4 linked regions of the Homo sapiens genome follow. The protein of the gene in region 3 interacts with the protein of the main gene of each other region in a biochemical or structural test. Each region holds a gene or a part of one and is shown on either strand. Other genes may lie near its edges.

Region 1 (7,025 bases), on a different chromosome or scaffold from region 3:
TGGCCAAATCCCACTTCTGCAGGCTGCTGCTTGAATCATCCTGGCCTGATAGATTCCCACATGCAGCACACTGCGATTCCCACACGCTTGGATCCGGTTGCCTGGACTATATCCGATGCTTCTGGGTAAGACTGAGTGCTCTGTAACTAATGGGCCTGGGGTGAAAATGATCCAAGGGTTGGAAACATCCTAAGCCATGTGATAACCTCTTTTTTTTCTTTATATCCCCCACAAGTTCTGATACAATACATTTAGAAAGGAACTCACTGAAGATTTGCTGAATGAAGAGAGGGATGGAAGGAAAAAGGAAGGAAGGAAGGGTTTATTTGATGCAGATTCTTCAGCATTTTGTTTTCACAGACTCCCTTCTTTTCCCCTCTTCTGGACCCACCTTTTTGCCATCTCACCGTTGATGAGCAGCTTCAGCTTAGAGGGTAAAGACAGGCATGATCGCGACTGGCCAGCATACTGGCCGGTTCTCTCTGTTAGCAGACTTTTGCCAAGGGTTTGGATGGAATGGGTGGCTCTTCAGGTGGAAAACAGGTCGTGGGGGTCAGGTTTTGGGTGCCTGAAACTGCTCTTCCTTCACTCCACTGTGCCATGACTGGCTCCCACCCGAAGCTTCAGCTGAGCTGGCTTGTCAGGGCTCGCTAGGAACTGCTGAGCTGCATCTGTCCTTACTTGGCGTGGCTTCCTCAGCCCCCTCCACATCTCAAGAACGTGGCCTTGGGCCCCTTTCTGCTCTGACCATTTTGCTTGCCTGGGTTTTTTCACTGTCTGCCATGCGCAGATCCCAGCTGTTCATTTGTACCTGACCTCTGACTGCTAGAACCTCTCCATTCTTACATCTCATGTAGTTCCAGGTCCCCAGCCAGGTTCTGGATGTTACCCAAGCCCCCTCCCCATTCTCCAGCTTCATTCTAGCCTACACTTTATGCTTTGCCTTAAGCTTTTCTGATACTAGCTCCTATTACCATCTCTAGTCTTAATTCTGATAGTGGGACTGCTAGCTCCTCTTCTTTCAATAATAAAGGGCTAGCTGTAACTAGCTGTGACTCTGTGATACCTAACGCCAGAAGAAGCTACTATATTCTATCATTAGTTTCCTTGTCTTTCTCAGTGACTAAAGCTAAGCCTCTTGAAGGTAGAGACAGCCATAGGAACCTTCACTTCTCAATGAAGTGTTGATGAATGTTACAGAAAAAGGAACTCTCAAGAATGGCTGCATTTTACATCTCATCTCTCAAGTTTTACTCTGAAGTTACTAAAGCCTTCAGCGACCAGAATCTAATAAAGGTGAATCACCAAGTTTATAAATGAATGAATTCCTAATAAATTAAAAATATAAGGGATAGCATATGGGTAATAATGGGAAGGACTGTGCAGTTTGAAGTCACTCAGACCTGGGTCTGAATTCTGGCTCTTACAGCTAAGCCTTCAGCAAACCAGTTAACAGCTCCGAGCTTCGAAGTTTTATTATACAAAGGTGACAACTAGGTTCCTAAGAGGAACCTTCGTTTCCCACTTTGTAAAATGGTGATAAAGCTACCACCTTACCTCATGGACTGTCAAGAAACTAAACTAAGATAAAGTATGAGAAAAATTATTTTGTAAACCTTAAAGCACAATATAGGTATTAATGATTACTATTATAAATTACATGTATCTTTGTTCTTATGGCATCTGAGTTAAAAACAACATAAAACCCTAACAGGCGATAAAGGTAATCTATTAGATATTTTTCCCTAATAGGTTGTTTTTATGCTGAGGCATGCCCCCACACTTATAAATTATGAAAACAGAATAATTATCTCTTACATTGCTTGAGTCAGGCTAGTCAGGAAGGCCGGTTACATAATTTATGGAGGACTTTTTCTAATCCTCTGCTACTCTCAAGAAAACAGTAGTTGGGATTACATATAGCAAAACCTTCTGAAATCATAAGAGGCACTGAGACACTTTTTAAAATCCCTCAAATTGGTCTGGCCTTAAAAGATTTTTACAACTCCCAGGACAGTTGGCCTCCATGCAGCCCTCAAGCAGGGAGGCGGAGGCCCTGAGGCCACACTGCCACACTGGGCCTGGAGGCAGAGCCCCTGACAGCCTGGCAAATCCTCTGAAAACTCTCTCCTTTCTAAGGTCATGTCTTCCCATCTATAAAACATCCGTTTATATGTATTTAGAAGAATAAAAGCCATTTTTTAGACAGTAGGGCCTGTTCTTCAGGATTCCAATTACGTAAATCTACAAGGATCCCCTTGAAAACAAGTGAAGGTTTTCTCTGAACCTTCTCTGGGGCAGACGCTAATGAATGCAATACTTTCATTGCTCCTGTAAGATTCACTTCAAGGCTGCTGGCAAAGGAACTTTTCTTCCATGAGCACGAATTGGTTTCCTGTATTAAAAAATGAGGAAAATCATTCAATTGATATAAAAGCCACTTTGAGCAGGCTGGTCAGGAAATACAAAAGTAGAAATTCTCATTGCATCATCTTACTAATTGTATAGCACCCCAGTTGCAATAAACATTACCAGCTGGCTTTTTGCATTTTTTTTCTACTATGCAATTTTAGTCTGTTGAGTCCTATTAACCACAAATCATGTGAAAAGGTGCGGGAAAAATAGATTGAGAATGGCATAACAAGCATTTGCAGAACGATCAGTCCTGGTCCCAAGTGATATTATAAGGGCAATAGATAGGCATAATGTAATAACACCAAGATACCGTTTGAAAGGGACCCAAAGAACCCTTGTCTCCTGAAAGAAAAAGTGTAAAGATATTTGGTTAGGTTGAACGTATGTATGCTGTGTTTTGATATGACAATTGCTTTCACATAAAGAGATACTTTATAAAGTACCAAAAAAAATCATATTTTAAAAAACAAGCTCATAGTATTTTCACCATTTTACTGGTTTGGGATATTGAACATCAGTCTCTGAGTTTTTAAAGAAAACATAACAAAAAACCCGGAACAGGACTTTAAATTTTCTCTGTTCTATCCTTGTCCTTTTTATCAATAGTTTTTATCCCTAAAATAACTAAAGGCCTGATGAAAGACCCTAGAGAATGTTTTCACTGTAGTAGAGAAACTCTTTAAGTCTGAGATGTAGCACATGAAGCAGCAGCATAGGGAAGTGAAGAAGACTGAAGGGAAAAGAGGGGACCAGTGCAGAAACCCTGGGGGCAGCCTGGGAAGGCAGACTACCCCTTGGACTTGAGCATCAGCTGAATTAGATACACGCAAATGTGAAGCTTGAAAAAAAACTGTACAAAAACAAAAATCACACCCTTCAAATAACAAACCAAGCAACCAATCAAACTGTCATTAAATTTTATCATTAAATAAGTAGCAAAAGGTAGATACTATATAGCAACCTTCTGTGCCCATGGATGCAAATGAATGAATTGTCTTTAGGCTTGAATTTCATCTGGCTACTCAACTAGGGGAATCATCTGCTCAAGAAAGACTGATACAGAGAGCCCTGCTGTCTAAGCTGCTCAGGGACACTGGGCTGATTCAGTCAGGGCCGTGCTGGTACCTGCTGCTGCTGCTCTCTGCTCAGAGGCATACAGTGAACATCCCTTTGTTCCTTTTAGACCAGTGATTCTGTTCTCATGGTGGCTCACAGGGAGGCATGGATTGCTGCAGGCTCTGCCTTGTATCACACTCTGCTTTTCCAAAGAGACGCCAGGCCTGGGCCATTTTGCGAAGTTTAGTGAGGTTGGGTTTAATCTATGGGAAGAAAGAATAACTTCAATTAGCAATATGAAAAGGTAGGTAGCATACAGGCTGGGCGAGGTGACTCACACCTGTAATCCCAGCACTCTGGGAGGCCAAGGCAGGCGGATCACAAGGTCAGGAGTTTGAGACCAGCCTGGCCAATATGGTGAAACCCTGTCTCTACTAAAAATACAAAAAAAAATTAGCCGGGTGTGGTGGCGCATGCCTATAATCCCAGCTACTCAGGAGGCTGAGGCAGGAGAATTGATTGAACCTGGGAGGCGGAGGTTGTGGTGAGCCAAGATCATGCCACTGCACTCCAGCCTGGGCGACAGAGTGAGACTCCGTCTCAAAAAAAAAAAATTGAAAATGTAGGTAGCATACAAATATTTCCAAAGTCTGGCTGTTATAATCTGTTTAGATTTCTAACTTCTGGATTCAATAGAGATTACAGATTGTTTTAAGGATCCAAGGGGACTCAGAACTTTAAGTCTAGATTCCCAGCTCTCAGCAATGGAGAAAAACTTTCTTCATATTTTTCTTTGTGAAACAAAGAGGTTTTAATGAAGTAAAATCAGCTAGTTGAGTCAGACAACATTAGTACCTGAAAACTCCATGCAAGAAAAGATTTTATATCCCTTAGCAGGGAAAGGTTAGCAAAAGAAAAGATTTTGGGCAGGGCGCAGTGGCTCATGCCTATAATCCCAGCACTTTGGGAGGCCAAGGTGGACAGTTCACCTGAGGTCGGGAGTTCGAGACCAGCCTGACCAACATGGAGAAACGCTGTCTCTACTAAAAATACAGAATTAGCCGGGCGTGGTGGCGCATGCCTGTAATCCCAGCTACTCGGGAGGCTGAGGCAGGAGAATTGCTTGAACCCGGGAGGCAGAGGTTGCGGTGAGCCAAGATCGCACCATTGCACTCCAGCCTGCGCAACAACAGCAAAACTCCGTCTCAAAAAACAAAAAAAAAGGAAAGATTTTGGAAAGCAGCAACAGGGACATTCCTGTTATGTTCTCCATGTTCTCCTTCACTGAAGATTATAACAAGGACAGAAGTTCTTCATTTAAGCCATTCTGTGCCTTTTCTGCATTATCCACATTGTAGTTTGCAGGTTGCTGGGTAATTAGGGCCAAAGCATAATGTAGAGATCCCCAAGCTTGGGTCCCTGTCTGATGATCCTCAAACCATAACTCAAGATCCTTGGGGATGGCCAGCTACAGTCACAGATCACCGTTTCCAGCAGGTACTATCAAGAAACTGGAAGTTGAGGCTCTATATTGCCAACAGTGAATTTGCTGTGCTTCTACCAACTTTCAGTAGCTTCAGAAAGAACTGCATATTATGAAACCTAGAGCCAGCAGGCAATAGATATTCAGGGTACATAAGTCTGTACATGTGTTAAGTTTTAAAATACAAAGCCATTATGTAGGTGACCTGACAGTTCAGTCTAAGTTCCATTTTGGATTTGAGCTGGAAAATGAAATGGGTGAGGCTTTATGTGAAACTTCCAGTGCAGATTTTGCAAAACTCTCCTATTTTGGAAAGGTTAAGACAGATTACAGTTGCATAGTAAAAGCCAGAAAAGAAAGAGAAAATAAACTTTGCTCCCTCCTGCTCCTGTTAGTCATTAATGTACCTGTTTTTCCTGTTCCAAGTGGTCTATGTCAGCTAACGGCAGCATAGAAGGTCTCCCGTGAGCACACTGGAATGGCAGCTGGCATGAGGACAGAGCTTCAATAAGGCGGCAACTTTCCTGTAAGCTCAGGCCATCATTAAACTTAATGGCCCCTAAATGAAAGACAGAAACAAGAAGGTTATAGTGTATATAGTGGGAAACCAATGCTGACCTTGGGTCACTGCCAAATATCTGGAAAAAGTAACATGTTTCTTAGGCTTCTTTAATGAAGCTTTAATCCTGCTTGAAATTGGTGCTTATAGGCCGGGCATGGTGTCTCACACCTGTAATCCCAGCACTTTGGGAGGCTGAGGCGGGCAGATCATGAGGTCAGGAGTTCAAGACCAGCCTGGCCAATATGGTGAAATCCCGCCTCTACTAAAAATACAAAAATTAGCCGGGTGTGGTGGCACGCGCCTATAGTCCCAGCTACTTGGGAGGCTGAGGCAGAAGAATCACTTGAACCCAGGAGGCGGGGGTTGCAGTGAGCCGAGATCACGCCACTGCACTCCAGCCTGGGCAACAAAGCGAGACTCCGTTCTCAAAAAAAAAAAAAAAAAAAAAAAAAGAGGGAAATAAATTAGTGCTTATGACCATGGATGAAACTAAGGCTTCAGGACTGACCTTCTGTCTCTCAGCTTTTTCTTACGGAGTATTTGTATTTCTAATCTCTGTAGGAGGCATTCCTTAACTTGTTAGGATCTGGCTTTCAGAGTTTTTCTCCAAGAGGCAAGAGCAGTATTTTTGCCTACTCTTTATGGGTTTGTGAAGTTGGGGTTATCTTTCTCCATGGATCGTCCAATAGCAATCTCTGATTGTTTCCTTACAATGTTCATTTTATTTGCTTCTTTTTTTCTAATTTCCATAATAATCTTCCTAATCTAAACTCTCATATTGTTATAACCTGCCTTTATGCACAATTTACCCAGTCAACAAATATTTATTAAGTATATACTTTGTATTGGGAGCTTTGTCAGGCAGTTAGTGAGACAGATAATTTCCATCCTCATGGCGCTTATGGTCTAATAGGGGAGACAAACATGAAGCAGATAATTATACAATAATTTAAATGATAAATATAGGTGCTATAAAATACAGGATATGAATATATAATAGGAAGACCAAACCCAGTTTAGGAGCTTAAGGAAGGCTTTCCTGGCAAAGTAGTATTCAAGCTGAGACTTTAGGTTAAGAAAGACGTGGCTAATTGAAGAAGGAGAGAAAAGTGTTTCAGGTAGAGGAGAAGGCCAGTGCAGAGGCCCCGACGCTGACAAATGTTTAGCACACAGGAAGCAGAAGACCAAAAAAGCAGGCTGGGATGTAAAGAACAAGGTGGAGAGTGATATGACGTGACACTGGAGAGGCAGGCAGGGGCCAAATCACGAAGACCCTTGTGGGCCACAGTAAAAAATCACATTTCTATCCCAAGAGCAATGGGTCATCATTGACACATTTTAGTTAGAAGAACAACATGCTTGGAGGGATGTTTCAAAAAGATTCCTCTGGGTGCTGAGAGAAGAGCAGCTTGAAAGGGAGCCAGAGTGGATGTGAAGAACTAAGTAAGAGAGCTCAACAGTGGCAAAAATGAGGGAGGAGCCAGACAGACTGAATCAGACGGACCGAAG
Region 2 (7,025 bases), on a different chromosome or scaffold from region 3:
GAACTTTCACCAGGAAGTGAACCGAATGACCCAGGCTGCAGTCCCACATGGCTGCCCTTTCACCCCACTGCAGGTACCCCGGGATGGGTACTTTACCGTCTGAGATACTGGATTCCTGGAACATTGTTTCAAAGGCTTGGTGGATTTCAGCAAAGGAGGGCCGGTCAGAGGGATTCCACTGCCAACCTGGACAGATGAAACCCAAGTCAGATCATCCATGAGATCTGGCTAGCAATACGGGGCTAGCAGTTCTCAAGGAAAAGTCTAGAATGAAAGCAACATTCCAATCCTGCTAACCATCTTTTGCTGCAACAAGTCAAAACGATGAATGTCATCATGTCCTGTTATAGACATTAAGAATTTGAAAAGACGTTAGATGCTGGCAGGAATATGGATTGTAAAACCCCAGAGAGACAGTGACAGCAAGAACTGCATTTACAAATATATTTTTCCCAGTCCCGCTCTAGTAGGTGTAGAAAATTACTAAGCCAAACAGCTCACCTTCTATCTTGTTCTTTCTTCACGGTTATCAAAGTCTGAAGTAAAGAAATTCTCATGAAAATGAGACTAACATGAGGACTAAACAGACTGACAAAGCCTAGTACTGGGGACCAGGAACAGTCACTCCCATATGCGTCTGACTGGAGCATACAATGGCACAACCTTTTTTAACAGTTTGGTAAAATGTATCAAAATTTAAAACCCACACAGTTCTTGGAACCAACAGTTCAACTTTTAGAAATACCAGCCAAAGTGCCCAGAGATTCGTGTACATGAATATTTGTTTCTGCTTTGTTTATAAGGGCAAAAACCAAACAAATGTGTAAAACAACCAAATGCACATCAAAAGAGGACCGGATGAATGAGTGAAATGGAGTACTGGGCAGCTATACATAAATAAGAGGTAGGGAGAGGGAGAGATCTGAATATATGGACGTGGAAAGACATGTGTGGGAAAACAGTGTAAGAAATGGCCATATAAATACCTTATAAGATATATGAAAACATCCTGTGTGTGCATAGTACAGATAACACATATGTAATCAGTATAAAACGACCAGATAAAAATCACCTCGCAGCTGGGCGTGGTGGCTCACGCCTGTAATCGCAGCACTTTGGGAGGCCGAGGCAGGCAGATCACCTGAGGTTGGGAGTTGGAGACCAGCCTGACTAACATGGAGAAACCCCATCTCTACTAAAAATACAAAATTAGCCGGGCGTGGTGGTGCATGCCTGTAATCCCAGCTACTTGGGAGGCTGAGGCAGGAGAATCGCTTGAACCAGGGAGGTGGAGGTTGAAGTGAGCCAACATTGCGCCATTGTACTCCAGCCTGGGCGACAAGAGCGAAACTCCGTCTCAAAAAAAAAAAAAAAAAAAATCACCTCATGAGCTTAGCTACTATAGCAGAATGTCTGTGAAAGCAGGGCCCAGGAATCTGTATTTAGGAATACACCCAGGTTTGGTATCTATCAATACCATTTTTGCTTTAAAAGACAAGTCACGCACATACTATTTATCTGTAAATAAAGGTCAATAGGTAGCAAATGGCTACATTAGCTGCATCTGAAGAACTGGAATGGAGAGAGCTCATGGAAAAACTTTCAACTTTGTGTACACACTCCTGCACAGTTGAATTTCCTGGAATGCCCACATATACTCGTGAGAACAGGCTGAGGAAGGCTTACATGCTCGCATGAGTTCATAGACCTTCTCTGGGCAGCCTTCTGGGCGCTCCATGCGGTAGTCCTTCTCTAGCAGCTCATACACCTGGGACAGGTCAATTCCCGGGTAAGGGGACATGCCATAGGTAGCAATTTCCCAAAGCAATACTCCAAATGCTGAAAGAAAACCGAAAGAGAAAGGCTGTTCAAGATGTGTAGCATTTCACTACACTACATTTAAAATCAGTTACCTTTGCAGCAGACCTCAGAAGGGATGGCCCCAGCAGCAGCCCAGGCTCTGACATTTTACCAGGCTCTTTATCATCAGAAGACCAGGACAAGGCTGGGTGCGGTGGCTCACGCCTGTAATCCCAGCACTTTGGGAGGCTGAAGTGGGAGGATTATTTGAGGTCAGGAATTCAAGACCACCCTGGCCAACATGGCGAAACCCCATCTCTACTAAAAATACAAAAATTAGGGGCCGGGCACGGTGGCTCACACCTGTAATCCCAGCACTTTGGGAGGCCGAGGCGGGCGGATCACGAGGTCAGGAGATTGAGACCATCCTGGCTAACATGGTGAAACCCTGTCTCTACTAAAAATACAAAAAAATTAGCCGGGCGTGGTGGTAGATGCCTATAGTCCCAGCTACTCGGGAGGCTGAGGCAGGAGAATGGTGTGAACCCAGGAGGTGGAGCTTGCAGTGAGCCAAGATCAAGATCGCGCCACTGCACTCCAGGCTGGGTGACAGAGCGAGACTCCATCTCAAAAAAAAAAAAAAAATTTAGCCAGGTGTGGTGGTGTACGCCAGTAGTCCTGGCTACTTTGGAGGCTGAGGCAGGAGAATTGCTTGAACCCAGGAGACGGAGGTTGTAGTGAGCTGATATTGCTCCACTGCACGCCAGCCTGGGCGACAGAGCAAGACCCCGTCTCAAAAATAAAAAAAAAAAAAGGAGACCAGGACAGAACAAGACTCAGTAAACTTACCCCACAAACATGCTAGAGGAGGGCAGATGATGAGTTTCAGACCCTGTGGGGTCTTTTAGGTAATGTGACCATCTTGCTGGGATATGTGGTAGAAGGAACCTGGCGCCGGAAGTCAGCTGGCCATGTTAACTCTTAGCTCTGTGACCAACCAGCTCTGTGCCTAACCGGCCACCACTGCTTTCTGGGTGCACAAGACTATCTCCAAAGCCCCTTCTAACTCTAAACATTTCATAAAAATCTTATGAAATCTTTGAAAGTTTTGAAATCTGAGATTATTGCCTTAAAATTCCATTTCCCATTAAAGGATAAGATTCCTTAGAGAAATGGGTGATTCAGGCCTGGGGCACAGAATGAACCTGCAATAGCTTGTCATTTGAGGGCGCGGACGTCATGGAAAACTACAAAGTTAATGTCAAAATGACTAGGAGCTAATGTGAAGTTCCCACTGGCCAAAGACGAGACAATCTGAATATCAACAGGGAAAATAACCGCAGTGGACTGAAACACATCAGATATATATAAATCTGAGAGTTCATAATACCACCAATGACAGCAAAAACCTAATTGGCCACCACTGAAGGGTATTAAGAAACTAACTTGTGCACTTTGGGAGGCCAAGGTGGGCGGATCACGAAGTCCGGAGATCGAGACCATCCTGGCTAACGCAGTGAAACCCCGTCTCTACAAAAATAGAAAAAAAATTGGCCGAGTGTGGCGGCGGGCGCCTATAGTCTCAGCTACTCGGGAGGCTGAGGCAGGAGAATGACGTGAACCCGGAAGGCGGAGCTTGCAGTGAGCTGAGATCATGCCACTGCACTCCAGCCTGGGCGACAGAGTGAGACTGTCTCAAAAAAAAAAAAAAAAAAAAAAAGAAACCAACTTGTGGCAGGGCATGGTGGCTCACGCCTGTAATCCCAGCACTTTGGGAGGCCAAGGCAGGTGGACTGCCTGAGCTCAGAAGTTCAAGGCCAGCCTGGGCAACATGGTGAAACCCCATCTTTACTAAAAATACAAAAAAATTTAGCCAGGCGTGGTGGCAGGCACCTGTAATCCCAGCTACTTGGGAGGCTGAGGCAGAAGAATTGCTTGAATCTGGTAGGCGGAGGTTGCAGTGAGCCGAGATCATGCTACTGAACTCCAGCCTGTACTTTGTACCCCAGAAAAAGCAAGACTCTGGCTCCAAAAAAAAAAAAGAAAAAGTAATTTGTTATTTTAAAAACTGGTAAATAAAAACAAAGAAGCAAGAATTGACCCTGCTCTTCCTACATGAACTGTACCACTGAGTAACCACACAGATGAGGAACTGTTTCTCCTCATACAAGTTTCCACTAGTAACTTAACAGGAATGACAGAATTAGAGAATTCCTACCTGGCAATACCTAGCAAACTATTGGATCTAGGCACTGTATATCAGTAACTGCCAAAAATTACTCAAAAAAAAACCCCCACAAAAAAACGATAGCAAATCAAGCATTTTGGGGCCAGGCGTGGTGGCTCACGCCTGTAATCCCAGCACTTTGGGAGGCCGAGGTGGGTGGATCACGAAGTCAGGAGTTGGAGACCATCCTGGCCAACATGGTAAAACCCCGTCTCTACTAAAAATACAAAAATTAGCCGGGGGTGGTGGCATGCGCCTATAATCCCAGCTACTCAGGAGGCTGAGGCAGGAGAATCGCTTGAAACCAGAAGGCAGAGGTTGCAGTGAGCCAAGATCGTGCCACTGCACTCCAGCCTGGGCAACAAGAGCGAAACTCCGTCGGAAGGAGAAGGAGAAGAGAGGAGGGGAGGGAGAGGGGAGGAAAGGAAGGAAGGAAATAAATGAAGCATTTTGTATCTACTGATGGAAGGGCACACCATCTCCCCTGATCCACTCTTACTAAAAGAGAAACAGTCAAACCTGAATGTGATGAGGCCGTTCCAGATCCAGCCACCCATTACTAGGAATACTGAAGTCAGAGGAACATATTAAATCACACCATGGGAGACAATGAGCAAAACCCAGAACGTACGAAACTCTAAGGATGGTTTCTTCAATAAACAGCAAGGGAAATAAAGACATGGAGAGGGGGCTTATAGAGGAGACTTAACAGATCAGCAGATACACTGTGCACCATATTTGGACCTCAGGCCAAATACACAGTTAAAAAAAAAAAAAAAAGGGTGGCTGTGCACAGTGGCTCACACCTGTAATCCCAGCACTTTGGGAGGCCAAGGCAGGCAGATCACCTGAGGTCAGGAGTTCTAGACCAGCCTGGCCAACATGGTGAAACCCCATCTCTACTAAAAATACCAAAAATTAGCTGGGTGTGGTGGCGGGTGCCTATAATCCCAGCTACTCAAGATGCTGAGACAGGAGAATCGCTTGAACCCGGGAGGGAGAGGCTGCAATGAGCCAAGATTGCACCACTGCACTCCAGCCTGGGTGACAGAGTGAGACTCCGTCTCAAAAAAACAAAAAGAAAGGAAGAAAAGAAAGGGAAGAGCAAGAAAGAGGCAGAAAAAAACCCTCCTGTAGTCAGGAAGGACCACTTCAGTGCAGCAGCAGCCCTTACCCCAGACGTCGGACTTGATGGAGAACTTGTTGTAGGCCAGGCTCTCGGGTGCAGTCCATTTGATGGGGAACTTGGCTCCAGCATGGGCTGTGTAGGTGTCCCCTGTCATCAACCTGCTCAGGCCAAAATCAGCTACCTTCACCAAGTGGTTCTCCCCTACCAGGCAGTTTCGGGCAGCAAGATCTCTAAGAAAGGAAAATGTTCACCCATGAGAGCTCCTGGCCAACCTTCCACTTCACAAATCCACCACTGCTGAGCAAAGGTGCAATGCTGACAATGGAAAGATTGAGTCCAATGCCCTGGAAGTTTGTATTAATGCCCACGGCAATTAACACAGTGCCAGCCTCTCAGCAAACACACCCTGAGATCCCAACATGGGGAGAGGCTGGTGCTGGGAGCGGGCTCCCTGGCCTCATGACCTGGAGCAAGTTAATTACCCTGGGACTCAGTTACCTCATCCGTAAAATGAAGACGATAATAATGGCACCTACCTCTTAGGGTTGCTGTGAGTGTAATTAATTAATATGCTAAGTGCTTTGATTGAAGTGTCGAGAATAGTAAGTGCAGTTATTGCTACTCTATGCCAGGCACGGAGACAAACACTGAGCCCAGTCCTTGATTGCAAGAAACTTCTATCAGAGTGCATCTCCACTTGTCCTATTCAGACTTGATGGGACAAAATAAAACAAAGCCCATGGCATTCTTTACCCAAACTGTGTTTCCTACTTCCCTCTTTCTTCCTGAGGTGTACCCAAATGTATCCTAAAAAACTCTCTCCTGTATAATCTGCTTCCTCTCACTTCCTGATTCTCCCAGGGAGGTAGGAGTCTAATCTTTGGTTCATGAACATTAACCATGAAATCACAAGGCAAACGGGAAGAGCGGAATGAGAGGGGGCAGCAGCTTGAGGTGATGGCTGCGTGAGATAGCCTGATCGTCAGCAACAAGAGTGAAATTAAATACAGAAGAGTTGTGCCTAAGAGGATTTTGATAAAGCATTTTAAGTTCGCTTGAATGAAGAAGGAACGGACCCGGCCGTGCCAGGCAAACCAGAAGTCAAGCAATCTCAATTTGCAGCATCAGAGGATTCACTTTCCTGAAAGCCAGGAGTATCTGGATCAGGCTCTCATGGAGCATAGAAAATCTGTCTTACAAGGAGCCGCCAGCATTTCACACATGCTACCCTTATTCCTTGCTATGAAATCTCATGTAGAGGTTTCATACTTGAGCTAATTGGGTAGGAAAGGTCACAGTGGTGGTGTGGAGAACATCTCGTATAAAAGACGCCAGCAAAGCCCATCAGGCTCTGTCCTGCACAGGCCGTCGCTTTGCTGGGAAGCCATTTCCACCAGCAAAGAATTTGAAGACCAAGATAATTGTGGCACATTTGAAGGTCAAAACACTTCAGGGTTTAAAACAGCAAAGACACTTAATTTAGACCTCCACATACACAATTCTGACAATTGTGGAAACATCCCTGAATCAGAGGACAGCAAGTTAAGTGGAGAATGAAAAGATAATAAAGAGAAAGCAGGAAAAAAAGACACACACACTAAAAAACAAAAGCCATGTACTGGTTGTTCCCATGAGTTTGCGTAAAAGCAATGCCAGCGGCTCCCAGGAAGAGGCCATTACTGCTGGGCGCTGGCCCCGGAGGAACAATGAGTACTCTCTTTCAGAGGGGACTGTGATTATTAGGAAGGACGCCTTTTATGAACTTCATTTAATATTCCACTTAGCCCAAAATGGTTCAAAAATGAAATATTCCTTACTCCGGGGATTAGCTGCTCCACTGGTCCAGAGTCTAGGCCTGGCTGAATTTAG
Region 3 (7,552 bases):
CCCCCTGGAATATTCCATATATTAGTCCTTCCCCATTTTCCCTCTATCCTTTACCAAGTCCTTACCAAGCTTTCCCAGAAATCGAGTCATATTCTCATCCTGTTTGGCACTCGTAACAACAGACTGGGGATTGATCTCATCCAGAACTTGGAAGGAGAACAGAGATCAAATGAGTTAAAGGATCTTTGTCTTTGACTAAGAGAAAACCCATAGCCCTCCTCTTCCTACCCCTCTCCTTCTCAAAAACATTTCCTCCCTAGGAGTAGGGAGTGCTCTGCACAGTGGGAACACAGGTAGAAGTTGAGATTTAGAAAAGTAGTTAAGAGTGGTGGGATGGTGAGAGGGAAGTGGGATGTTCTGGATGTTGTCACTAGGCTGTAAACCCCTGGAGAACAGACATGACTGATTTGCCCAGGGCTGAATCTGAAGCACCTGAAACATTGTAAATACGTCATATATATTTGTGGCCAGGCACAGTGGCTCATGCCTATAATCCCTGCCCTTTGGGAGGCCAAGGCAGGCAGATCACTGGAGGCCAGGAGCTCAAGACAAGCCTAGCCAACGTGGTGAAACCCTGCCTCTACTAAAAATATAAAAATTAGCCAGGCGTGATGGCAGATTCTTGTAATCCCAGCTACTCGGGAGACTGAGGCAGGAGAATTGCTTGAATCCGGGAGACGGAGGTTGCAGTGAGCCAAGATGGCACCACTACACTTCCAGCCTGAGTGACGGAGCAAGACACTGTCTCAAAAAAGAACAACCAAACAAACCAAAAAACAGCCTCACAAATATTTGTTAAATAATGAAATGAATTCATAAAAACAAAAGAGGGAGCCTCTGTGAAGCAACTGTAAAATATATTGAGTCAGTGCTATAGTTTGGATGTGATTTGTCCCTGCCAAATATCGTGTTGAAATTTAATCCCCAGTGTGATAGTGTTGTGAGGTAGGGCCTAGCAGGAGGTGTGTGGGTGATGGGAGTGGATCGCTCATGAACAGATTAATGCCCTTCCTGGAGTGTGTTGGTGGGTATGAGTGAGAGGTTCTCACTCTATTAGTTCCTGAGAGAGCTGGTTGTCAAAAAGAGCCTGGCATCTCCCTCCCCCTTGCTTCTTCTCTGCCATGTGACCTCTACACACCCTGCCTTCCCTTCTTCCATGAGTTGAAGCAGTCTGAGGCTCTCACCAGTGAAGATGCCCAATTTTGAGCTTTCCAACCATCCAGAACCATAAGCCAAATAAAACTTTTTTTTTTTTTTTAACAAATTACTCAGAGTCAGGTATTTCCTTACAGCAACACAAAATATGCTAGACAGTGAGGTGAGTTAATGTAAGTAAAACATGGCTGGGCGTGGTGACTCACACCTGTAGTCCCAGCACTTTAGGAGGCCAAGGTGGGCGGATCACAAGGTCAGGAGTTTGAGACCACCCTGGCCAACATGGTGAAACACCGTCTGTGCTAAAAACACACACAAAAAACTAGCTGGGTGTGGTGGCACACGCCTGTAGTCCCAGCTACTCGGGAGGTTGAGTCAGGAGAATTGCTTGAACCCAGGAGGTGGAGGCTGCAGTGAGCCAAGATTGCGCCACTGCACTTGAGCCTGGGTAACAGAGCAAGACTCTGTCTAGAAAAAAAAAATATGTGTGTGTGTGTGTGTGTGTGTGTGTGTGTGTGTGTGTGTGTGTGTAACACATCTGCAATCCCAGAGAGCAGAGGAATTCATGGTTCCATCCCCACCTCTCTGGAGAAGCTTGAGGCTCTCGTGGTCTGGGGCATCTGGCATGAAGTGGATAGTGGAGTCACTAGTATCATAGTAGGCAATGCCCAAGTATCCTGAATTCCACAGCACACACAGATGGATCTGTCCAGCAAGGAAGAAAGGAAATCACTATTAGAATCACTCATAAGTGTAGGGTTTACCATGTCTTATATAATTTAATCATTTTCTCAAATCTCTGAGATAGGCATCATCACCCCCATTTAGTGAATGTGAAACAGCCACTCAGGAGGTAAGAGACTTGCCCAGCTCTTCCCAACCCTGTTTTTTTTTTCTTTCTTTCTTTGAGACGGAGTCTTGCTCTGTCGCCCAGGCTGAAGTGCAGTGGAGCAATCTCAGCTCATTGCAACCTCCGCCTCCCGAGTTACAGTGATTCTCCTGCCTCAGCCTTCCCAGTAGCTGGGATAACAGGCACGTGCCACCACGCTCGGCTAATTTTTATATTTTTAGTAGAGACGGGGTTTCGCCATGTTGCCCAGGCTGGTCTCCAACTCCTGAGCTCAGGTGATCCGCCCGCCTCAGTCTCCCAAAGTGCTAAGATTACAGGTGTGAGCCACCGCGCCCGGCTCCCAACCCTCTTTTATTCTAACTTCCCATCAACTCTCCATTCAAGTTTCTACTCCCCTCAGAGACCTCGGCCAGCTCCTCCTCCTCCTCGACTTCCTCCTCCTCGGCCTCCCTGGGGCCCGGCACTGGGGCCGGGCTGGGGAAGCCGGAGGAGGCCGCCCCAGGTCTCGGTCCCTGCGGTGTCCTCCTTGGGTTCGCTCCTAAGGAGGCCATGAGCTTGGAGGCTCTGCGGATGCAAAAAGTGAGGGCGGTTCGGAAGCAACGATTCACAGAGGAGGCCGGGGTAGGGTGGCGCGCAGAATGCAAAGCACTAAGTACTTCTGCTACAGGGCTGCGGGGCAGGGCTGAGGGGCGTGGAGAGCTGTGGACACAGGAGGTGAATTCTCGGGTATTTAACTAAAGTACAGATTGTGGGAAACTCCACGCGCCCCACCCTCATTCCTGTCACGCGGAGGTTACCCTTTGGAAGGAAGGGGTCTGAGGGCCCTGTGGGGCGAGTCGTGCACGTCTTATGTCTCTGCCTCTGCCAACCACGCGCCAGGACCCCAGCCTCACGCGCTTATCTTCCTCCTCCCCCAGCTGCCGCCATCGCAGCGTTTTCCCGCCTTTTCAGTAACCTGAGTCGCTACAGGTGGGAGAACGCCCCGCTGACCGACCGCCACGAGCCTGCAAAAGGAGCGCGCCGGCGCGTGAGCGAGGTGCGCGCGCACGCGCCCCGCCCTCCTAACCGCTGTTGATTGGAGAGGCCCGGATCCAGCCTAGAGATCCGACAGGGCGAGGAGGAGAAGCGGACTGCCGTAGCTGAAGAGTCTGGACGCTGATTGGCCTATTTGCCTTCGGGGCGGGTCCAGAACGTTCAAACTTCCCGCCCTCTGCCGTTGCTTAGCAGCCGGGCCTCTAGCACTCACTGTTTCTGGGATTTGATTGGCGCAGTGGGAAGCCCGCGAGAAGGTCGGACCAGGGTCCGTAGTCCCAGTCCCTGGAAGGGGTTTGGGACCGTTGCGGGGGTTTTGAGGGGGAGGCCAAACTTAAAGAGCCAGAGGCGCTTATTTTTTTTCCTGCAACAACTCTTAAGTTAATATTTGTACCCTCTGAGTTAATATTTATACAGAGCTTAGAACAGTGCCTGGCAAACAAAGTAAGACCTAAATGAGCGGTGTTTCAAATAAATAAGCGGAAACAAGCAGGACTTCTGTCTCAGCCCTACCGTGCCTGTTTCCTGGGTACAGGGTATGACCACCCCCATAATGGCACGACAGGGCCTAATTTATTATTTAAACCCTTCAAGCAGAGGTGGAAGCATTCGAATTACATCAAATTCTGGCAGAGAGAAGTAGTTCTGATCAGAACACTCACACCCCTACTGGGACATGCCCATACCCCTTCGCACTTCTACACACCCCTGAAGACAGAGAGGTATCTATCATTCATGCATTCGGCAACTATTTAGTGCCTATTTTGGGCCAGGGGTTGGACTCAAAGCGGTGAACATAATGAAGTCACTGCTCCATAAAGCTTATTTGTGCGTCTGTGTGTGTGTGTGTGTGTGTGTGTGTGTGTGTGTGTGTTGCGGGGGTGGGGTTATGAGGGAGAAAGAAAAAAAATATATATATATATATATATAATCCCTTTAAATGCACCATCCTCCCCAGCTTTGTTCCTAGTACCCTGAGATGGGGAGATTCCTCCCCAGCCCCCCAACCCAAGAAGTTAGGAAAGATGGTGGGGGTGAGATGACCTAGCTGTGCTAACCAGTAATTGGAAAATCCCCTCCAGCAAGAAAGGTGGGGGAACAGAGTTAAGGGCTGGGTTAATGGTTACCCCTGGCAAATCTGTTGAGCAATGGAGCTATAGAAACTTGGAGGAGGTTGGTGACAGCTCTGGGGAGTGTCAGGGAGGGACCCACCTTCCAATCTGGGGTGTGAAGAGATTAGGGACTAGTTTACCAAGCCCAGGAAGGGGAGGGAGTGGAAAGAGAAGCCCAGAGAGGGAAAGAGGAGCTACTGAGATAGGAGAAATGCAGGGACAGGGAGGTGAGATGGAGGGAAACCTCTGTTGCAGGATTTGGGGGTACAGCCCTGGCTCTGCTGGATGGTTCCAGGAGAGGGCAGCGTTGCCTGTCACCTGGTAAATTAAGGCACGATACCCTGTGGGTAGTCATGCCAGCCAGCCAAAGTCAATATTGATATCAAGGCAGCTGTAGCTATAAAGCTGTAGGAGAGAAAAGAGAGGCCGGGAGAGGCTGCCAAACCTGTTTGATCTTCAAGCTGGCCCCATTTACCTAAGGCTTCTCTTGGACACAGACCAGTTGGAACAGGAGAGGACCCTGAGAAGTAGAGTTGTTTTGATCCCCTCCCCTCAATGGGAAGGGGTCCTGTGTGCAGATTTTGAGGGTCACCATGAGGGAATTCACACCCACACAGAGGCATGGAATCATACCCTTACAGGATGTTACAGTTCAAGGGAACGAACACCAAAGATAGCCTTTCTGTCGGGAGGAGAGAAAAAGGCCCTCCCACAAGCAGGAGAAAACCCACAGAAGAGGAAGCACAAGAGGAAACCACCAACTGCTGGTTTCCAGCAGCACATCACGTCACTCCACCCCACTCCTCCCCCAAGTCTCTCCCTTTCTTTAAGTTTCAAGCTCTGTTTTAGTTCTGTGTTCTTGCACTCCACCATGGTTTTCTGGAACTGTAGGTCTTTTGTTGGACAGAGGGTGATGAGGAGGATAGAGAAGGGATGGTTGGACAGGAGAGAAATTCAGGATATGGAGGCTGGAATTCTGGGTTTATTTTTTCAGCAGGTCATAAAGGTTTAATAGAAATCAAGGTTACTGGAGAGAGAGCTGCTCCTCCTATGTCCTCCCTGCTTATTTATTTAGGTGTCCCCAAGGACTCTACTCCCACTATTCTGTCTGATCTTTCTTTATCCCCATGACAGGACCAGCTAACAACACCCCTACCCCACCCCCTATACACATACTTCAGGATCGGGCCATGATAATCCCACCCCTCTGCCCCATCTCCAAGGCAACCTGTCAGTGAGACGAGGACAAAGGGCACAGGAAGGGGCCCCAATAGGAAACATAAGTGGAAGCACAAAGCTGACCAAGCTACAGGAACAGACCCCTCCCTGCAACAAAGCCCCTTGCCTCGGCTTTATGTTTCCTTCGCAAAAGACTTCGTCATCTCCCTTCCCATCCCTAACTCTACTTTCTTTTTCTTTTCTTCTTCTTCTTTTTTTTTTTTTTTTTTTGAGATGGAGTTTCGCTCTTATTGCCCAGGCTGGAGTGCAATGGCACCATCTCAGCTCACTGCAACCTTCACCTCCCGGGTTCAATTGATTCTCCTGCCTCAGCCTCCCAAGTAGCTGGGATTACAGGTGCCCACCACCCCGCCTGGCAAATTTTTGTATTTTTAGTAGAGACAGGGTTTCACCATGTTGGCCAGTCTGGTCTTGACTCCCTGACCTCAGGTGATCCACCCCCCTTGGCCTCCTAAAGTGTTGGGATTACAGGCGTGAGCCACCTCACCCGGCCCCTAACTCTATTTCCTATGCCCAATCCCAAGTGTAGGCCACAAGGACTGCAAGTCCTAGTGCTGAGCTGGGCCCGGAGACAGTAGACTGCGGGGGGCACAGGACCTACTGAGACACCAGTCTGGGCAGCTCAGGGAGTGCTGGCGTCACCCCTTCCCTAATCCCAGGCTGCATGGCTAACGGTTCCTATCTGCAGTCCCAGCCTTCCACTTCCGAGTTCTTCTCTCAGACCACAGTCCCAGCAACCCAGAATTTGGATTGGAGTCTGGAAGAAATGCAGAATGATTAAACGACCACCTTTCCATTTGAAGTCCCCATCCCTGAATCTTCACGGGTGTGCCCAAGCTGTTAGTGTCAAGTTTTTTATATGAGGGTCAGTCGGGTTGTACTCAGATTAATGAAGCAGGGAAACTGAGGCAGAAAAGAGTCCTGTGTTCAGGAGAGGTCGGAGAAACAAGGAGGTTTTCAGGACTCCTCCTTAACACCCCCATCCCCATCCTGTGGGAGATCCGAGGATTCCCCTTCCGGACTCACTCCCTACATCGTCGAGTCCCGCCCCCCTCCAGTCCCCTCCCCAGGTTCAGGGCGGGGCCGGTCGGTGAGTCAGCGGCTCTCTGATCCAGCCCGGGAGAGGACCGAGCTGGAGGAGCTGGGTGTGGGGTGCGTTGGGCTGGTGGGGAGGCCTAGTTTGGGTGCAAGTAGGTCTGATTGAGCTTGTGTTGTGCTGAAGGGACAGCCCTGGGTCTAGGGGAGAGAGTCCCTGAGTGTGAGACCCGCCTTCCCCGGTCCCAGCCCCTCCCAGTTCCCCCAGGGACGGCCACTTCCTGGTCCCCGACGCAACCATGGCTGAAGAACAACCGCAGGTCGAATTGTTCGTGAAGGTAAGAACACTTCTCTCCTCAGCCACCCAAATTCCTGGAAGCCAACTCTCACCTTTCCCCCGGTCCAGCCTTAACTCCCCAATCCCTTCCCTCCTTGACTCCCACCCCCAATCCCACGTGCACTCTTTGGTTGAGGGGTGGTTTTGAGAGGGGAAGACATTAACTTGTTAGCAAGTAATGAGAATTCTAGGATCAACCCTGAAAAGTTTGTAAAAGTGCAAGTTTCTAGCAGACTAAAGGAAGGGAAGTGGAGAAAAAGGAGAATTCCCAAAAGTGAGACTGGGGTGGGGTTAGAGGGCGAGCTGGTGAAGGGACAGTGGGGGCCCAGCAGGGTTTAGAAGGGACAGAGGGGAACCTCAGTTAGGACATGTGTCCCTACAAGATCTGAGGGTGAGTAGTGCAGTAGGAGAGGTGTGTGTGTGTGTGTGTGTGTGTGTGTGTGTGTGTGTGTGTGGATGGAGACGCTTCAGGGAAGACGGTGTGTTGAGGGAGGCCTGAGAGTGAGAGCAAGTAAATTGGGAAGCTTTGGAGGGGCGGAACAAAACAGGAGACTGGGATCGGAGTTTGAAAAGCAGAGCTGGAGAGGTGATCGGGTGGCATTGAATATCCCCAGGACTGGGGAAAGGGACAGAAGGGGAGGTGGCAAGAAGACGTGAGTTTAACGTAGCTACCACAAGGATGGGTGGGAGAGAGATCAGACGGAGGAGAAGAGCTCGGTTAGGGCATTTTGGGATTTGGGGGTTGGAGAAGTAGAAGACTTGCCCCAACTCTCTCCTCTCTCTGCGGGTGTG
Region 4 (7,025 bases), on a different chromosome or scaffold from region 3:
TAAGTTTTCCAATTTGTTGGCATATAGTTGTTTACAATAGTCTCTAATGATCCTTTGTATTTCTGTGGTATCAATTGTTATGTCTCCTTTTTCATTTCTGATTTTATTTGGGTCTTCTCTCTTTTTAGTTGGTCTAGTAAAGATTTGTTTGTCTTTTGTATTTATTTTAGTTTCAACTTCATTTATTTCTGCTTTGATCTCTATTATTTCTTTTCTTCTACCAATTTTAGGTTTGGCTTGTTGTTTTTGCTTTCCTAGCTTTGAGAAGTACCACGTTAGGTTGTTGTTGTTTTTTTTTAAATGTTTCTACTTTTTTGTTGTAGGTGTTTATTGCTATAAACGTTTCTCTTAGCAATATGTTGCTGTATGTCATAGATTTTAGTATGTCATGTATTTTTTTCAAGAATTTTTAAATTTTTCTTTTTAATGTCGTTATTGACCCATTGATTGTTCAGGGGCATGTTGTTTATTTTCCATGTATTTATATATATAGTTTCCAAAAGTTCATTCTGTTATTGATTTCTAGTTTTATTCCATTGTGGAATAAAATATACTTCATAGGGTTTCGACATTTTTGAATTTATTGACACTTGTTTTGTGGCCTAATGTATTGTTTATCCTGGAGACTGTTTCATGTGATGATGAGAAGAATTTGTATTCTGCAGCAGTTGGATGAAATGTTCTGCAAATGTCAGTGAGGTCCAGGCAGTCTAGAGTGTAGTTTAACTTCAGTGTTTAATTGTTGATTTTCTGTTTGGATGATCTGGCCATTACTGAGAATGGAATGTTGAAGACCCCTACTAGTATTGTATTGCAGTCTATATTTCTCTTTATATCTATGAATTTTTGCTTTACATATTTGGATGGTCCACTGTTGGGTGAATATATATTTATAATTGTTATGTCCTCTTGCTGAATTGACCCCTTTATTATTATAGAATAACATTCTTTGTCTCTTTTTACAGTCTTTGACTTGAAGTCTATCTTATCTGATATAAACATAGCTACTCCTGCTCTTTTTTGGTTTTTATTTATCTGGAATATCTTCTTCCATCCCTTTACTTTTAGTCTAGTATGACTTTGTAGGTGAAGTGAGTTTCTAGTTAGCATCATACAGTTAGATCTTATTTTATTTCTTTTATTTTTTTTGAGGCAGAGTTTTGCTCTGTCACCCAGGCTGGAGTACAGTGGCTTGATCTCAGTTCACTGCAACCTCCACCTCCCAGGTTCAAGCGATTCTTCTGCCTCAGCCTCCCAAGTAGCTGGGATTACAGGCACCCGCCTGTACACCCAGCTAATTTTTGTATTTCTAATAGAGACAGGGTTTCACCATGTTGTCCATGCTGGTCTTGAACTCCTGTTTTTTTAAGTCTTGTTTTTTTAATCCATTTAGACACTCTTATGTCTTTTAATTGGAGAATTTAGGACATTTACATTCAATACTATTACTGATAAAGACTTACTGCTACCATTTTGTTACTTGTTATCTGGTTGTTTTGTAAGTGCTCTCTTTCTTCCTTTTTGATTAAGTAATTTTTTCTGGTAGTATGTTTTAATTCATTGCTTTATATTTTTAATATATATAATATATATACAATATTATATATATTATATATAATATATACATATTATATATTATATATATATAATATATAATATGTATATATTATATATAATATATATAATATATAATATATTATATATTATATAAATTTAAATATATATATTTTAATTTATGATTTTCATGAGGCTTATAAAATATTTTATAGCTATAACACTTTATTTTAAACAGATAACTACTTAGTTTTGACCATAGAGAGAAGAAAGTAACAAACAATGGAAAAACTGAAACACTCCGTACTTTAACTTCATTCCCCTGACATTTTGATTTTTTCTTGTCTCAATTTACACCTTCTTATATTGTCTATTTCTTTAAAGGTGTCTGTAGTTACTATTTTCATAAACGTGTCTTTTTTTTTTTCTTTTTTTTTTGAGATTGAGTCTCACTCTCTTGCCCAGGCTGCAGTGCAGTGGCGCGATCTTGGCTCACTGCAAGCTCTGCCTCCTGGGTTCGCACCATTCTCCTGCCTCAGCCTCCTGAGTAGCTGGGACTACAGGCGCCCACCACCACGCCCAGCTAATAAATGTGTCTTATAGTCTTTATGTTAGAGATATGAGTAGATTACACATCACATTTATAGTATTAGAGTATTCTGAATTTATGTACTTACATTTAAACTTCAAGTTTGTTTGTTTGTTTGTCTTTTGCATGTTAGCATTCTTTCCTTTCAGATTTAAGAGCTCCCTTTAACATTTCTTATAATATGGGTCTAGTAATGATGCATTTCCTCAGCTTTTGTTTGTCTAGAAAAGACTTTTTCTCTCCTTCATGTTTGAAGGAAAGTTTTGCTAGGTATAGTATTCTCAGTTTGCAGTTTTTTTCCCTTCAGCACTTTGAATCTGTTATTCCACTCCCTCCTGATCTATATGGTTTTTGTTGAGAAGTCTGTTGCCAGATGAATTGGAGCTGCTTTATATGTTATTTGCTTCTTTTCTCTTGCTGCTTTTAGGATTCTCTTTGTCCTTGACCTTTGAGAGTTTGATTATTATATCATTTGGCTTGTCTTATTTGGGATGAATATATTTGGTGTTCTGTGACCTCTTGTACCTAGATATTAACATATTTCTCTAGGTTTAGTAGGTTTTCCATTTTATTCCTTTAAATAGGCATTCTACTCTTTGCTCTTTCTCAATTCTCTCTTGAACACCAGTGAATCTTAGATTTGCTCTTCCACGGTGTATCTCTCTCTCTCTCTCTCTCTCTCTATACATATATATATATATATATATATATATATATGTATAAAATCTTTCAGGCTGTCTTTATTCCTTTCATTCTGTTTTTTTTTCCCTCTGACTATATCTTGGCTTACTGCAACCTCCGCTTCTTGGATTCAAGTATTTCTTGTGCCTCAGCTACCCAAGTAGCTGGAATTACAGGCATGTGCCACCGTGCCTGTCTAATTTTTTTAGTGAGACGGGGTTTCACCATGTTGGCCAGGCTGGTCTCTAACTCCTAGGCTGAAGTGATCTGCCTGCCTCAGTCTCCCAGAGTGCTGGTATTATAGGCATGAGCCACTGTGCCTGGCTAATCTCACTGATTCTTTCTTCTGCTTGATCTATTTCTTTTTTGGAGAGCCTCTGTAGTTTTTTTAAGTTCAACAAATGTATTTCTCAGTTCCAGGGTTTCAAATCTGTTTGCCATTTGATTTTTAAAAACTTTCATCTGTTTTTTTTTTTTTTTGAGACAGAGTCTGGCTCTGTCACCCAGGCTGGAGTGCAGTGGTGTGATCTCAGCTCACTGCAACCTCTGCCTCCTGGGTTCAAGAAATTCTGCTGCCTCAGCCTCCTGTGTAGCTGGGATTACAGGTGTGCACCACCATGCCTGGCTAATTTTTGTATTTTTAGTAGAAATGGAGTTTCACTGTGTTGGCCATGCTGGTCTCAAACTCCTGACCTCAAATGATCTGCCCACCTTGGCCTTCCAAAGTATTGGGATTACAGGCGTGAGCCAATGTGCCCGGCCAAACTTTAATCTCTTTATTAAATTTCTCTGATAAATTTATCAGTTGCTTTTTCTGTGCTGTTTTAGAGTTCATGAATTTTCTTAAAACTGCTATTTTGAATTCTTGATCTTAGAGCTCACGTATCACCATCTCACCACGATGTTGATCACCAGCTCCTTGCTTTGTTCATTTGGGGAGATCATAGTTTCCTGTTTGCTCTTGTTCCTTGTGGATATATATCTATGTTTTTGCAATGAAGGATCAGTTTATCTTCAGTGTCTCGCTTGTTGGACTTTCTAGGTTGTATGTTTGCTTAGAAGTTCTTTGCAATTGTCTGTGATTCCCCTTAATCCTAGATTGCTGCCTCATTTTCAGCACTAGATGGCACCTTAAGCCCAGAATTTCCTCAGCTCTGGCAAATGTTTGCAGTACTACACATCTCAGATGGTAGGGTTCTTAGAGGGGATACCTCAGCTGTGTGGAAAGGCTGGCTAGGGGTTTATACCCAGATGACCTGTGGCATCTGCTTCCTCTAGCATGGTGCTGCTGTACATCCACACTGATTTGGTGTCTCCTTCGACTGAAATGAGGAGTAGTTTTACAGGCTGGAGTTTCTAATTCCACTCCCCTTTTTGTCTCTAGCTGCCCTCAGGCGGTTTTCTCCCTCCAGGCACTAGTGGTGCTTCCTGTGGGTTTAGGCAGGAATGATTTTTCTGCAAGGGAACCCAGGATGGTGGGGAAGCTGGCTATCCACCTCAATCTCACTTTTTCCAGAGTAGAACAAATGAGATTGGGAGGAATTTTCTGTGCATGATGCCTGGCAGATTGGGGCACGGACATTGCAGATAGAGAACTTTCTTTCTTTTTATAGTCTGCTCAGAGTTTTTCACTTCTCTGTCTCCCAACTATCATTTCAGCCTCAGATTTGGCTTCTAAAATGTTGCTGGTGTTAATCTGTGCTCCAGATATTTGCTTTTGGTTCTCTGTGGGGAGAGCAAAGGCAGACTGCTTCTACTCTGCCATTTTGTTGATATCCAGAATTGTATTTTTTTTTTTTTAGTATATACTTTAAGTTCTGGGATACACGTGCAGAACGTGCAGGTTTGTTACATAGGTTTACATGTGCCATGGTGGTTTGCTGCACCCATCAACCCGTCATCTAGGTTTTAAGTCCCGCATGCATTAGATATTTGTCCTAATGCTATCCCTCCCTTTGCCTCCCACCCCCTCCCCCCGCTGACAGGCCATGGTATGTGATGAGAATTGTATTTTTTTCTTTTTATTTATTATTTAGCTTCTTTTACGATAACTCTTTTGAAACAGTTTCACTCTTCCTGTACTCTCAATCACTTCACTTTCTACAGATAATCTGCCTCCTACTTTTTAACAAATTTGAGGTCATCTTGATGAGTTCTTGAACCTCCCCTCCTTCAAAATTTTGTTTTGAATATTTCTGTTTTTCTTCCATCTCTCTTCCATCTTATCTCAGAGGAAGAGACTGACTTTCAGACAGAAGGTTAACTATTCTACCTTTTAAAAAAATCTCCACTAAGTTATTATTACTTCTCAGTTCCCTTTATTCTCTTTTGCATCTTTAATATTTTCGTCACAGGCTTTTCCTTTTTCTAAGAGTATGCTTAGATTTCTCCCCTAAAATTCTGCCTGTTTACTCTACTTTTCAAACTATTATTTCATTTTCTTTTTACTGCAAACTTATCAAAAGTAACCCATGCTTGCTTCTTTCATTTCTCATGTTTAAACTGAGTCTTATTGTCATCACTCTCCCCAAAGTTTTCTCTTAAATACCAACTAATTATAAAATCCTTTGTCCTTCTTTTCACTTCTGATCTTCCATGATCTCTCTATGGCACTTGACACTACCCTTGTTTTCTCTTTTCTTAATTCTGCCCTCTCTTGGCTATGTGGAATTATTCTCTCCTGGATATTTTCATTCTCCTACCTGTTTGATTATTTCTTCTGTCCCTTCTTCACTAGTACTTTTTCTTTTCTTTTTTTTTCTTTTTTTTGAAACAAGGTCTCACTGTGTTGCCCAGCCTGGTTTTTAACAAATTCCTGGGCTCAAGCATTCCACCCGCCTCTTCCTCCCAAAGTGCTGGGATTACAGGCATGAACCACCGCACCCAGCCATCATCATTACTTTTTCTTATTCCACTTACTAAATATAAAAGTTTCTAAGATTTTTGCCCTTGTTTCTTTTCTTTCTAAAATCTGCACTTGGTGATCTCATCTTTTCTCACAGCGTCCATCATCATTTCTGTTCAACTCTGAATCTATATATTTTTCTCCATATTTCTCCTACATATCTTAATCTATGTTTAAAAGCCAAAGTTAAATTTATCATCTTCTAAAAAAAACTCTTATCTCTTCACCTTTAAGTCTCCCAGTGACTCACCAAAGTCATATATGGATCATTCCTCTTAATCACCTGTCATTAGGACTATGCAGTAAGTTCTCTCTCTCTCTCAATCTATTTATATACACTTCTACCAGATTGTCTCCTAATGCATAGTTTTTATTATGTAGTTTGCCTACTCAGAAACTTTTAATGATTTATTACAAAGTAAAGTTGAACTCCTTTGTCTAGTGTAAAAAGTCCTCTGTAATTCTCAAAATATATTTTAGAATTACCTGCATTAGAATTGCCTGAGATACAGGGTACCATACTAGATTGTCAAGGATCTTCTGTGGCTCAGGGATTTGCCTTCTTAACCAGTTTTTACGTGATTGTAAAGCTTATTGGCTTCTGCTTCATGATTTTCCTTTGTTTTCTACACCTCCCTTACATAATATCACTCGGTTTCACGTAATCTACATTTCTGCAATTTCAATCTTGTAAATTAAATTACTTGTCATTACTACATTGAATTACTTGCCATTTCATCATATTGACCTGATTGTGTACCATGCTTTCAAATGTACCTGCTCTAACTGTTTCCTCTGTGGAATACCCCCTCTTCTAGGCTGTTTTATCTATCAGGATTAATTTCAATACTCCATCCTATTCAAGCTTTTCTTGGCCTGAGCTGGAAGTGAGTTTCCCTTCCTCTGAGTATTTTATGGCTGTTTTATGGGACTTTTCTTAATTATTATAATCAGTTGCTTACAACAAGCCTTTTGTTTTTTTAACCATTAAGACTGTAAGCTCCTTGAGTTCTGTTATCATGTGAGGTTTACATTTTTGTATCCCCCATAGATATATAAACGTAAGCTTAGAGGCCTGGAACATAGATGATAGTAGATATTCAATAACTTTCTTAAAATAATAGACTAATTGGTAATTGATCTGTGTACCAAATAGATAGATGGGTGAATATATGGTAATCTTATTCTACCTCATAAAATCTTACTCATTTTTCCTATAGTGAAAAGTAAAAAAAAATCTGGAGTTGCTTGCTATTATGAGTTGAAGGGATTATATTTCAGGGAAACTCACTAAGA

What was found.
Region 1: the proteins of MSH5 (region 3) and MLH3 form a complex in vitro, tested with the Homo sapiens proteins (one study listed by BioGRID).
Region 2: the proteins of MSH5 (region 3) and ABL1 form a complex in vitro, tested with the Homo sapiens proteins (one study listed by BioGRID).
Region 4: the proteins of MSH5 (region 3) and MSH4 form a complex in vitro, tested with the Homo sapiens proteins (2 studies listed by BioGRID).

Annotation. Positions count from the first base shown.
Region 1 is NC_000014.9:75,013,468-75,020,492, forward strand, and holds the end of MLH3 (DNA mismatch repair protein Mlh3), read right to left. Parts: intron 5,514-7,025; coding exon 5,362-5,513; intron 3,735-5,361; coding exon 3,615-3,734; 3' UTR 308-3,614; downstream 1-307. UniProt on the Homo sapiens protein: Probably involved in the repair of mismatches in DNA.
Region 2 is NC_000009.12:130,873,229-130,880,253, reverse strand, and holds part of ABL1 (tyrosine-protein kinase ABL1), read right to left. Parts: intron 5,387-7,025; coding exon 5,202-5,386; intron 1,840-5,201; coding exon 1,687-1,839; intron 187-1,686; coding exon 97-186; intron 1-96. UniProt on the Homo sapiens protein: Non-receptor tyrosine-protein kinase that plays a role in many key processes linked to cell growth and survival such as cytoskeleton remodeling in response to extracellular stimuli, cell motility and adhesion, receptor endocytosis, autophagy, DNA damage response and apoptosis.
Region 3 is NC_000006.12:31,735,471-31,743,022, reverse strand, and holds the start of MSH5 (mutS protein homolog 5), read right to left. Parts: upstream 3,019-7,552; 5' UTR 2,961-3,018; exon of another isoform or gene 2,803-2,960; intron 2,570-2,802; 5' UTR 2,557-2,569; coding exon 2,410-2,556; intron 1,861-2,409; coding exon 1,737-1,860; intron 147-1,736; coding exon 66-146; intron 1-65. Other genes in the region: CLIC1 (chloride intracellular channel protein 1), read left to right, coding at 6,723-6,761.
Region 4 is NC_000001.11:75,904,860-75,911,884, forward strand, and holds part of MSH4 (mutS protein homolog 4), read left to right. Parts: intron 1-7,025. UniProt on the Homo sapiens protein: Involved in meiotic recombination. Required for reciprocal recombination and proper segregation of homologous chromosomes at meiosis.